Linked DNA regions of Homo sapiens. The protein of the gene in region 3 purifies or fractionates together with the protein of the main gene of each other region. This does not show direct contact. Each region holds a gene or a part of one and is shown on either strand. Other genes may lie near its edges. The genes, in order: SLC25A20, NDUFS6 and ARL15.

What was found.
Region 1: the proteins of ARL15 (region 3) and SLC25A20 purify together in Homo sapiens (affinity purification with mass spectrometry; 2 studies listed by BioGRID and IntAct, with this or other methods). This does not show direct contact.
Region 2: the proteins of ARL15 (region 3) and NDUFS6 purify together in Homo sapiens (co-immunoprecipitation; one large-scale study listed by IntAct). This does not show direct contact.

The regions. Positions count from the first base shown.
Region 1 is NC_000003.12:48,881,839-48,885,490, forward strand, and holds part of SLC25A20 (mitochondrial carnitine/acylcarnitine carrier protein), read right to left. Parts: intron 2,287-3,652; coding exon 2,159-2,286; intron 1-2,158. UniProt on the Homo sapiens protein: Mediates the electroneutral exchange of acylcarnitines (O-acyl-(R)-carnitine or L-acylcarnitine) of different acyl chain lengths (ranging from O-acetyl-(R)-carnitine to long-chain O-acyl-(R)-carnitines) with free carnitine ((R)-carnitine or L-carnitine) across the mitochondrial inner membrane, via a ping-pong mechanism.
Region 2 is NC_000005.10:1,807,903-1,811,554, reverse strand, and holds part of NDUFS6 (NADH dehydrogenase [ubiquinone] iron-sulfur protein 6, mitochondrial precursor), read right to left. Parts: intron 1-3,652. UniProt on the Homo sapiens protein: Accessory subunit of the mitochondrial membrane respiratory chain NADH dehydrogenase (Complex I), that is believed not to be involved in catalysis. Complex I functions in the transfer of electrons from NADH to the respiratory chain.
Region 3 is NC_000005.10:53,883,841-53,887,592, forward strand, and holds the end of ARL15 (ADP-ribosylation factor-like protein 15), read right to left. Parts: intron 2,874-3,752; coding exon 2,721-2,873; 3' UTR 102-2,720; downstream 1-101.

The DNA.
Region 1 (3,652 bases), on a different chromosome or scaffold from region 3:
GCAAATGCAGCTCCAAAACAACCCCATCCACATTTCAGGACACTTGCAGCTATTTATAGAATCTAGGGACATTCAGAGAGTCATAAGGATCCCAGAAATAGAGTTTCACTCTACAAGCACCTCCATCTACATCCTAGACCCTCACTCAGCCTGCTGTGGCCTGAAGTGGTGACAGAATACAACCGCATGGCGCCCTGGGCTTCCTCCCTTGAGCTCCTGGATCTGAGGGCAGGCCAGCCTCTGTGGCTCCTGTACTGCCTATAGCCCCTCCCAGGGGCTGGCATCCTGCACAGCTCAGATTGTGGATACCTTTTCACCCAATATTTCCACTCAGAATTTCCCTGCCTCCTGAGAAGCCTCTGTTTTCATTAACTACTTTGTAAATTCTGAACTATAATTCTGTCTCAGGTGACTCTTCATACCCAAATCCAACTTCTTAAAGTTTATTAAAGGAAAACACATTAACTTATTCCACTTTAACAGAGAAACTAATACCTGAAATCTTTATAGTCATATTAGCATGCTGTAAAAATGAAGCACAACAAAAGTTGGAACCTTCTCTTCTCTCAATCAGGTGATAGAAAGCAAGGCTGTTCTTGTCTTTAGGGCAGCACCAGGTGCTGCCTATGACATGTCACATATATTTAAGCATTCAGACCTCTCAACAGCCTCCTGGGGTTGGTATTACAAATCTCTCCAGTAATTGATACTACCTTATAAAAGAAATACGAAAAACTGGTCAGGTGTGGTGGCTTACACCTGTAATCCTAGCACTGTGGGAGGCCAAGGCAAGAGAATTGCTTGGCTCCAGGAGTTCAAGACCAGCCTGGGCAAGATAATGAGAGCACCCCCCGCCGCCCCGACACACACACACCGACCATTGCTAAAAAAAATTTAAAAATTAGCCCAGAGTGATGGTGTGTGCCTGTAGTCCCAGCTACTTGGGGGGCTGAGGCAGAAGAATCACTTGAGCCCAGGAGTTCAAGGTTACAGTGAGTCGTGATTGCACCACTGCATTCCAGCCTGGGTGACAAAGAAAGACCCCATCTCAAAAACTCAAGTACTTGGGCTGGGCACAGTGGCTTATGCCTGTAATCCCAGCACTTTGGGGGGCCAAAGGGGGCGGATCACGAGGTCAGGAGATCGAGACCATCCTGGCTAACACGGCGAAACCCCGTCTCTACTAAAAATACAAAAAAAAAAAAAATTAGCCGGGCGTGGTGGCGGGTGCCTATAGTCCCAGCTAGTTGGAAGGCTGAGGCAGGAGAATGGTGTGAACCTGGGATGTGGAGCTTACAGTGAGCCGAGATTGCGCCACTGCACTCCAGCCTGGGCGACAGAGCAAGACTCAGTCTCGAACAAACAAAAAAAAATTTAAAATTAAAAAAATTAAAAACTCAAGTACTCCTTCATGTATAACTCCCAGGAGTTGGGCCAGGCACAGTGGCACACGCCTGAAATCCCAGCACTTTGGGAGGCCGAGGCGGGTGGATCACCTGGGGTCAGGAGATCGTGACCAGCCTAATGTGGTGAAACCCCCTCTCTACTAAACACACAAAAAAATTAGCCAGGTGTGGTGGTGCATGCCTGTAATCCGAGCTACTTGGGAGGCTAAGACAGGAGAATTGCTTGTACCTGGGAGGCGGAGGTTGCAGTGAGCCGAGATTGTGCCATTGCACTCCAGCCTGGGCAAAAAGAGCAAAACTCTGTCTCAAAAAAGAAAGAAAAAAAAAACTCCCAGGAGTCAGGCCTAGGGGCCCAGGAAGACCCACCAAGGTCCTTTTTTTTTTTTTTTTTTTTGAGATGGAGTCTTGCTCCGTTGCTCAGGTTGGAGTGCAGTGGTGCCATCTCGGCTCACTGCAACCTCTTGCCTCCCAAGTTCAAGCGATTCTCCTGCCTCGGCCTTCCAAGTAGCTGGGACTACAGGCGCCTGCCACAACACCCAGCTAATTTTTTTGTATTTTTAGTAGAGACAGGGTTTTGCCATGTTGGCCAAGCTGGACTCGACCTCCTGACCTCAGGTGATCCACCCGCCTCAGTCTCCCAAAGTGCTAGGATTACAGGTATGAGCCACCGCGCCCTGCCCAAGTTTCTTTATTTTAACCCATGTCACGCTACCAGGCAGAACAGCAAGTGCTCCTGACCTGTAAGTACTCACCTGAGCACATCTTCTGGGTGTTTCTGTTGTAGTTTCTTCCCCAAACCAAACCCAAAGAAGCACACGGCAAACATGGGAGTGACCCCGATGATAGGGGCAGCCATTCCCCGATATAGCCCCGTGATGCCCTGCAAGGAATCACAGAAGCAGAAGCTGTTTACAGACACCACCACCTTTTAAATCACTGAAAGAGGAAAGCAGTGTGTCCTCCAAACTGTGGCTTCCTTCACCTCTTCTTGAAGCAAGGAGAACTTTAAATGGAAGAAAATCTCCCACATTTATCAGAAATAATTTTCCTATTATGCTGGAGAAACTGAAGGCAGTTTCCATTCTCAAAGGCAATCTGTTTTTGTTTTGGGGGCTTTTTTTTTCAGACAGGGTCTCACTCTGTCGCCCAGGCTGGGGTGCAGTGGTGCGATCACAACTCATCACAGCCTTGATCCCCTGGGCTCAAGTGATCCTCCCATCTCAGCCTCCCAAGTAGCTGGGACTACAGGCGTGCGCCACCATGCCCACCTAATTTTTGTATTTTTTGTAGAGACAGGGTTTTGCCATGTTGCCCAAGCTGGTCTCGAACTCCTGGGCTCAAGTGATCCTCCTGCCTTGGCCTATTAAAGTGCTGGGATTATAGGCATAAGCCACTGCACCCGGCCAGCAATCTGCCAATATGTAGCATACCCTTTCACCTGGAAATATTTTGTGTGGAAAATTTATTGCAAGGAATTTATTCTAGGGAAATACTCAGAGGTGTAAAAAGAATAACCTCAGGCACTTATAAGGTACCAAAATTTTGGGGAAAAAAACAAAAGCTGCCAAATAGAAGACAAATTATAAACTCCATAAATGGAGTCACATGGCCAAGAAATCACATTATAACATGAGAAGAGATTATTAAGTAAAAAAAAAAAAAAAAGCTACAAAACAGGATACACAACGTGATCTACCTTCTTTGGGGTAAGATTACAAGTGATTAAGAAAATGTTTTATATTTTCCAGGTATTAAGATGGGACTTTTGTTAGAACTGCACAGCAATTTTCACTAGCACAGTTTAGTAATGAAAGGGAAGATGAGCCTGGGCAGCATAGCAAGACCCTGTCTCTACAAAAACAAATAAAAAATAAAAGTTAGCCAGACGTGGTGGTGTGTGCCTGTAGTCCTAGGCAGTCAGGAGGCTGAGTTGGGAGAATAACTTGAGCCAAGGAGTTCAAGGCTGCAGTGAGCTATGACCTTGCCACTGTACTCTACCCTGGGTGACAGAGTGAGACCCCATCTCTAGAAAAAAAAAAAGAAAGTGAATTATGTGGTAACCAATAAATAATTAGACAGACAGACAAATACATACATAAATACCCTGCCAAACAAGGTGGTAAACGAGGAAGATTCAGGACCTGGGAGACCAGGGGGCCAGTCCAAGAGAGATGAAATGCGTTTCTAGGATGGCACAGGGTGCAGTGGACCTGGGAAGCAGTCAGTCCACAGGGCAGTAGAGGACT
Region 2 (3,652 bases), about 52 Mb from region 3:
AAAGAGACATAAGAGACACCAACAGCTGCATGTAGGAACTTACCTGGGCTCGGAGTCACACTGTAACATTTTTAAAAACATGCATGATCAAGAATATTTAACACCACTTAGATATTTAACTTAAAGAAAGTATAATTTTTAAGGTGTGATAATTATATTGTTGTCATGTTAATATATTTTGTTATTTTGTTTTTTTTTTACTTCCCTGTAAGATCTGAATGTTAGTATCTTTTGAAGGTACAGTTAATCCTTGAACAACTCAGGGGTTGGGGGAACCACCCCCAACACAATTGAAAATCTGCATATTATTTTTGACTCCCCCACAATTTACTCATAGCCTGATGCTGACCAGAATGTTTGCCAATAACATAAATGGTCGATTAACATATATTTTGCATGTTACAAGTATTATATATTGGATTCTTATAATAAAGTAAGCTAGAGGAAGAAAATGCAATGAAGGAAATCACAAGGAAGAGAAAATGAACTGACTTTTCATTAAGTGGAAGTGGATCGTCATAAAGGTCTTCATCCTCATCATCTTCACGTAGAGCAGGCTGAGGAGGAGGAAGGGAGGGTTGGTCCTGCTGTCTCAGGGGTGGCAGAGGCGAAAGAGAAGCCACTTAAGTGGACTCACAGTTCACACCTATGTTGTTCAAGGGTCAACTTACATACAGATAAATTTAGACTCAGTAACATGATGTCAAAGATTCACATCAACATTACCAGGGGCTGGGGGGCCGGGGGAGAGGCAGAGCAGAGCTGAGCCAGACTGGCCACTCCGACAACGATTAGCAGAGCTGAGCCGGACTGGCCACTCCGACAACCATTAGAGGAGCTGAGCCAGACTGGCCCCTCCGACAACTACTTCGGTTGGTAATTGTTGAAACTGACTGCCTGGATACATGGGAAAAGGGAATCATTAGACTATTCCCTCTGTTTCACAGAATTTATGTTTTTTAAAAAGCAATTAAAACATCCTGGCTTGGCAAATAATGTATTTGATGATGCTCACGATGGCAAATTTGGGAACTTGGAAAGGGGACATGCCTTGATTTCCTCTGACTCTGTAATGAGCCAGCCCCTTTCAGCTGCCCCTGGGAACAGTCAACGATTAAGTGCCAGGAAGACAAGGCACGAAGAACCGGGAAGCTATGGGAAGTAGAGCGCCGGCATCTGTGCATGTAGAGGGAAGGAACTCAACTCTACACCCCCAGCAGGCCTCTAAGCCCAGGGATGTGGGTCTACCTGCATGTCCCCTCCTGGAGGGCCAGCCCCGCCAAGCATGACACAACCCTCTGCCTCGGATGTTGCTCCTGGGGTTCCCCTGCTTAATGGCACAGCCTGAAACTTTGTGCTCCTTCTACAGCGTCCCCGCCCCAGAGTGGAAGCAGCAACAGGGCTCATCACAAAGTCACTCATTTCTGGAGACTAGAGGCCCATTCAATGCCACACAGTCACAGAGAACACACACGCAGTGGGAGGCAGGGCACCACTCTCCCTCACAGATATGTTTCGGAAAGGTTTATTTTTCAAGAGGTTCTGTCAGTTACAGATGACCATTGTGTAAAGCTTTTCCTTGAAGATCTATTTCCAGAAACACAGTAGGAAGTTAGTGGAAAATGAAGCCACATTAAAGCAGAGGCCTGAGCCGTGTGGCGCCGCCCAGGTTGTTCCACACGCTCCAGCAACACAAGCCTCTGCTGCCGGCCCGGCGGCTCGCCTTGTCGCAGCGCCTTACAGAGGGCTCTGGAGTGAGCGATGTTCTGCTCACCCCTGCTGCAGGCGATGCAACTAACCATACAAATTAAGCCTTATGGTGTAAATAATATGGTGTCTGCCTAAGTGACAACGTGTCACAAAGGCCGCACTAACAAACTGCCAGGCCCCGATCACGGCAGTCAAAGAGACCGGCCACCTCCCTGCAGGGAGGGCTGCTGACGCCTCGACACTGGCGACTGACGCGGGATGCCCTCCCGTCATTTAGTGTGCGCAGCTCAAGGGTGACCCTGACCGCCCATCACCAGCAAACGTCTGGCTCCAGGAGCTCAGTGCAACCGCAGGAATACAAAGAACCAGCAGTGAACACACCCAGCCACGACACAGAGCCCGGCTCCGGGTTCACACGGCCAAGCTCCGGCAGTGAACACACCCAGCCACAACACAAAGCCCCGCTCTGGGTTCAGACTCAAGGCTCCATTCTCACCTGCTTTCACCTGGGGAAAGGTGAGAAAAACTGAAGAGCGCTGCTGCACTTCACGAGGGAATCAAGGGAGAACCGTCACAGCAGCCCGCACGCCATCTCTTGTTAAGCACACGGCACATCATACACAGTGAAGTGTCCAACCTCTGTAAAATGAGTCCCTCGCCCGTCACTAATGTAAAAAATAGGAAACACTCTTTCCATTGACCTCTTGATGATCAAATGATTGGGCATAAAGATATGTAGGTTTAAATCTTTAGGAGTCAAAGTCCTATTGTGTCAAACTGAGATTACATCTATTAAAGATAAAACATAAAATATGTGATTCTGTGACACAGCATCAAAACCAACGCAGAAGGGAAAAGTCCACCAGCTGGATCATCGACACTGTAGAATACCGACCCCATTCATGGACATTTAAAATAAAAGTTTAAAATAAAGTAAAAGCTCAGTTCAATTATTTAGAACATCAGGCATTCTGAACATGAATGCCAATAATTATTTAAGCTAAACGTGTGTATACATGTCTATATAAGTATATAATTCTTAAATCACAGGCAAAACTGAAGTTTTCATTCAAATTAATTTTTAAACTAAGTAACTTTATAGAAAATGCTCTAAAAACCACAATTGAGCTGTCTGTACAACATGTTCAAACTTGCTTTGAGAATGTTGGAATCCAGTGACTAATTTTGCCAGTGCCTTGGAAGAGAAAGAACCACAAGACACAAAGACACAATAGAGAAGCAAAGACGAAGCTGGGGAGCTGCATGAGGGAGGAAATAAAGCCCATCTCGCCAGCTCACAAACAAAGCCACCAGCATGTGAACCTGGGGCTCGTGAATTCACAGTTCCAACTATTTTCCTCTGGGTCCTGGGATAAATAAACCTCACTTTATAACCATTATTTCTGACAGTCCAAGCCTTTCTAAAGGAAGCAAAGACCCACGGTTCTTATCCATCCAGAAGATTTCTTTTAAAATCCGATTGCCTTCACTCCACTATAAAGATGGCGTATTTGGGAGGGAAGCTCAGGAGGAGGAGCATGCAGAAGCGGGAAGCCACACAAAAGCTCTGGAGAGCAGCCATGGCGCACATCGCACCGCCCGCGTCTCAAACACCCCCTAAAGGACGCCCAGGTTGCTTCAAGACAAGAGAGACTCAGGCAAACCTCCCCTCTTAAACCCTCTAAGGATGAACCTGGAAGCAAGCACAGAGCTCCACCTCTGCCACCAACCAGATGACCTGCAAAGGCGGAGGGTGGAATTCCGAGGCCCCTCAATTCAATCTTCCTCTCACGGAGGACCTTCTCAGCCACCACTGTCTGGCTGGGGGCCTCACCCTAGCACCCATCCCCGACTCCCAGTCCTGTCTCCCACCTGGAGCTCCAGCGGCACCACAAGGGCACTTTCACAGCTCCCTCCTGGTGACGCCACCTCTTCCTCCTGC
Region 3 (3,752 bases):
GAGCAGCAGAACTTATTTTGGAGACAAACAGGCGACACAAACGTAAACAGAAATCTGGGACTCCCAAATGCTAAAGTTGAAAGGAGTTAGTCTGAAAACACCAGTTCTACTCAGCGTTTATTTTTCATTTGAAGATAGTGGAAATCGTAGAAATCATGGACAATACAAGTTGGTCTTGCCTGGTAAATGTCCACATGAATCTGTTAGCCTCTAAGTACAGGTACAGTATTTTTTTAATAGAAAGACAGGGCAATATGGCAGTTAATTAGCAACCAATACTGTCAACTACAGTGGATACAAAGTTTTATCATATAAATTAATTGCCATTACAAAAAGGCAACTGCTTTAGCTAAGAAGGTACAAAAACTGGAAACGTCCATAAATATTACAAGAAGCTAGGTGAAGAAATACATAACAGACTGTTTTTCCTATATAATATTTGAATATGCAAACCAAGACACCTGTGGCACTTTACATGAAAGTAGGAAAAGGGACTTACACTCCCACCCCCAGCCATCCCACCCACCCCACCACCCACCCACCCATCCCCACCCGTTCAGGCCCCACCCCGCCCCCACGTGGATTTCCAAAACATGGCAAATTCTAGGGTTACAAGGACAGGATGCCGCGCGGAAGCAGCAAGACAGCGAGCTCCGACCTGCTAGACAAAGAGGGAGCCTTATTGACAGTTGTAAAGCATTAGGCGTCAGACAGAAACTTGTCAAAAACAGCTGTTGTTGGGTACTGATTGATAATGTTTTCATTCTGACGGCTGAGACGCTGCAGACAGTCGTGGGTTTGAGGAGAGGCCCATCACTGGCGCACACATGAACACACACACGCAGACCACGGGAAGTCATTTAACAGATGGCTTAGGAGCACTCAGCCACGGTGTCTTAAAAAGACAACATTCTACATTTAATGAACTTGCAGGGAAAGCAAGGCCTAATAATCATTTATTTTTCATAGAAGATGAGCACAACAGGACAAAATAAAAACAGGAATTGTGTAACTGGTCATCGGAATAAAAGTTTTGTGCTGCTCAGGGATTACACAGTGTTAAAAATATTCAAGAATGCTGCAGACAAAATTGTATACGAATCACTATGTATCCTTCCTGATTCATGACATTAAAAAAAAAAAGCTTAAAGAAGTGTTTGATGTTTCAAAGGTAATGATTTCATTACAATCTACTCATAAGATTAAACCACAAAAACTACATTTAAATGGCATTAAGGGTCTGAAGTCTATCTTCTGGAGAATTACCAGGTATTACATCATTCTGTAATATAGTGTGAGTCTGTGGTATTTGGGTATCAGTCCATTTTACTTAAAATTACAAACATGTTTTTACACTCATGTGCAGGGAGCAGTTTTTTTTATCATTTGGCCACTTAGTATTTTAAGTGGTCAAAGTCTACAAAGTATGCCAAAGAATATTTCATCTGTGAACCTCAATATGCATAGATTTTTTTCCTGATTTAGAAAAGATCAAAGGTGCTAAACCTTAGTAAAACTGTACATTTATCCCTATGCAATTTTGTCATTTAAATTAAATGGAAAAAAAACTAGTTCCAAAGACTGAATATGAGTCCCAATATTATTTATTTGCTGCAGCCCCAGCACAATTTTAAGGGCACATTGAAACCCCTGAAAATAGAGGTTTATAATAGAAATACTGATAAACCTTTAACTACTAGAGGAAGGCATTAACAGATTCCAATAAACTACAGTAACACGTAATGAATGAATATATAGATGATTCTGTCTTTGTTATCTTTGTCAAATCCATGCCATCTTAAACCCTAACCAGTATAAATTATACTTTTTCTGGCTGTTTTTAAAATTTTTATCTATTATTTTAAAAATTATTTTCTCTATTTTAATCAAACACTTGAAGTTTTTAGAAAAAGATACCTATGTTACATTGCAGCTTCACTTTATGCAGGCTCATCATTCCATTAAACAATATTTGAAGACTCGAATCAATCAAATACAGTCTGTGATGCATGCATTGTACCTAAATTTCCTCTAACCACTCTCAGAAACTGAAACAATGTCTTTGCTCTTAAAAGAGAAGAGACTTCAGATGTAATCAAGAAAACATTGTGTAACTTGCCTCTAAGCTCTTCAGAGCCAATTTTACTATGGCAGGATATTCCTTCCTGATAAGGTGATTAATGAAGTTTTTGGTGCTCACTTTTCTCTCATAGTCTATAAGCTCAGTATACCAAAAAAAAAAAAAAATTAGATAAAATAAAACAAAACCCCCAATAGGTCTTGAAAATAATATAAATATTTTGTGGAGTCCCAGTCACATAATACTCCACTCCCAAACCCAGAGAAAATGATCAAGGTCTTGTGAGTCTTTCTGAGTCCTTCAAAAGGGATTTGATTTCCATAAGCCATGAATTCCATCCGTTTCAGCACAGAGTATAGAAGAGATGCTTAGAACAACAGAAGGAAGAGACATGCGGGGAAGATAATTAGTGGTAAACAGAGAATAAATTCTCTCTCAGTAGTGTGTACTTGACGTTAATGCCGATGATAATTCATCTGATCTACAGAATATTCACTTTAATAGAGAGATGAGAGTCTGAAATGACCAGAGGAAAATAGATACTGAAGCCAATATAGTCTTGATACCAAAATAAAATTAAAATGAGAAACTAACATGATAGGTTCAAGGCCTTTTGGGAGCCTGTTTTCTTTGCCAGATTTCACATTCTTACAGCTTCATGGTCTTTTTCTTCTAACAAATTAATCAGCTGAGAGAAGCTGTCTTTCAGTGCATCCATGTCATCCAGTGAGCAGGGCTGTAGAATCCAGCGTTTTCCACGTGCAAGTGGTTCAAGTTCAAAATATTTTTTGATCTTAAGAGGAAAAAATAAAGATAAATAGGTTATTAATTATATCAGAAACTTTCTCATATCAAAATTCTGAGGGATAAAGTAGGGGAATTTCGAGGCGGAATTTATACGAACTGTGATGCCTACAACTTTGCAATGTGGATGCCTGTCCGCAGCTGTTGTTATAATGTGGGTTATATATTGTGACCTGGGAGTGTTTTCTTTAGAGGTGAATGATCTGCGTGCAAGCCACCATTCCACCCATACATTTAGCAGCGTGGGAGGTCTGATGAAGTCAGAGAAAAAATTATTTGCACTATGGCACCAGTCAAGATACATTGCAGACACCAAAAGATTCGATTTCATCAAAATAATTAGCAGAGTAGCTTTCACTATCTCACCTTGCCAACTTATTAAATGGGTGACGACTTACAGTAGGTACTATATTGATTACTCAAGACTCAATTATTTTGACCATCAAGCACATAACACAACAAAAATCTAATTTAAATAATCTTCTTCTCTTTCTCTCTCAAATTTCTAGTATCTGCTTCTGAGACATGAGAGCGTGTTTTCTAGGAAAGAGGATAGAAACTGCATGTATGTATGTTTGTATGCATATACACACTTACATAAATTTACATATATGCGTAAAATCTTCTACCTTTTTTTTTCTTTTTCAGTCCTGAATTTTCTAGGATGGAAAAAGCAAGAACTTATAATAGGTATGTGCTGAAAAACCTGTTCAATTAATAACCAGTCACAAGTCACTCTTACTATATTGGCCAGCATACTGACTAACGGCATTTAGTATTACCAATTCCTGGCTGTGAATAAATAGCAAATTATTATGGCTTCTAGAAGTATTGATGATCTTCTCTCAAAAGGTATCATAAAACACAA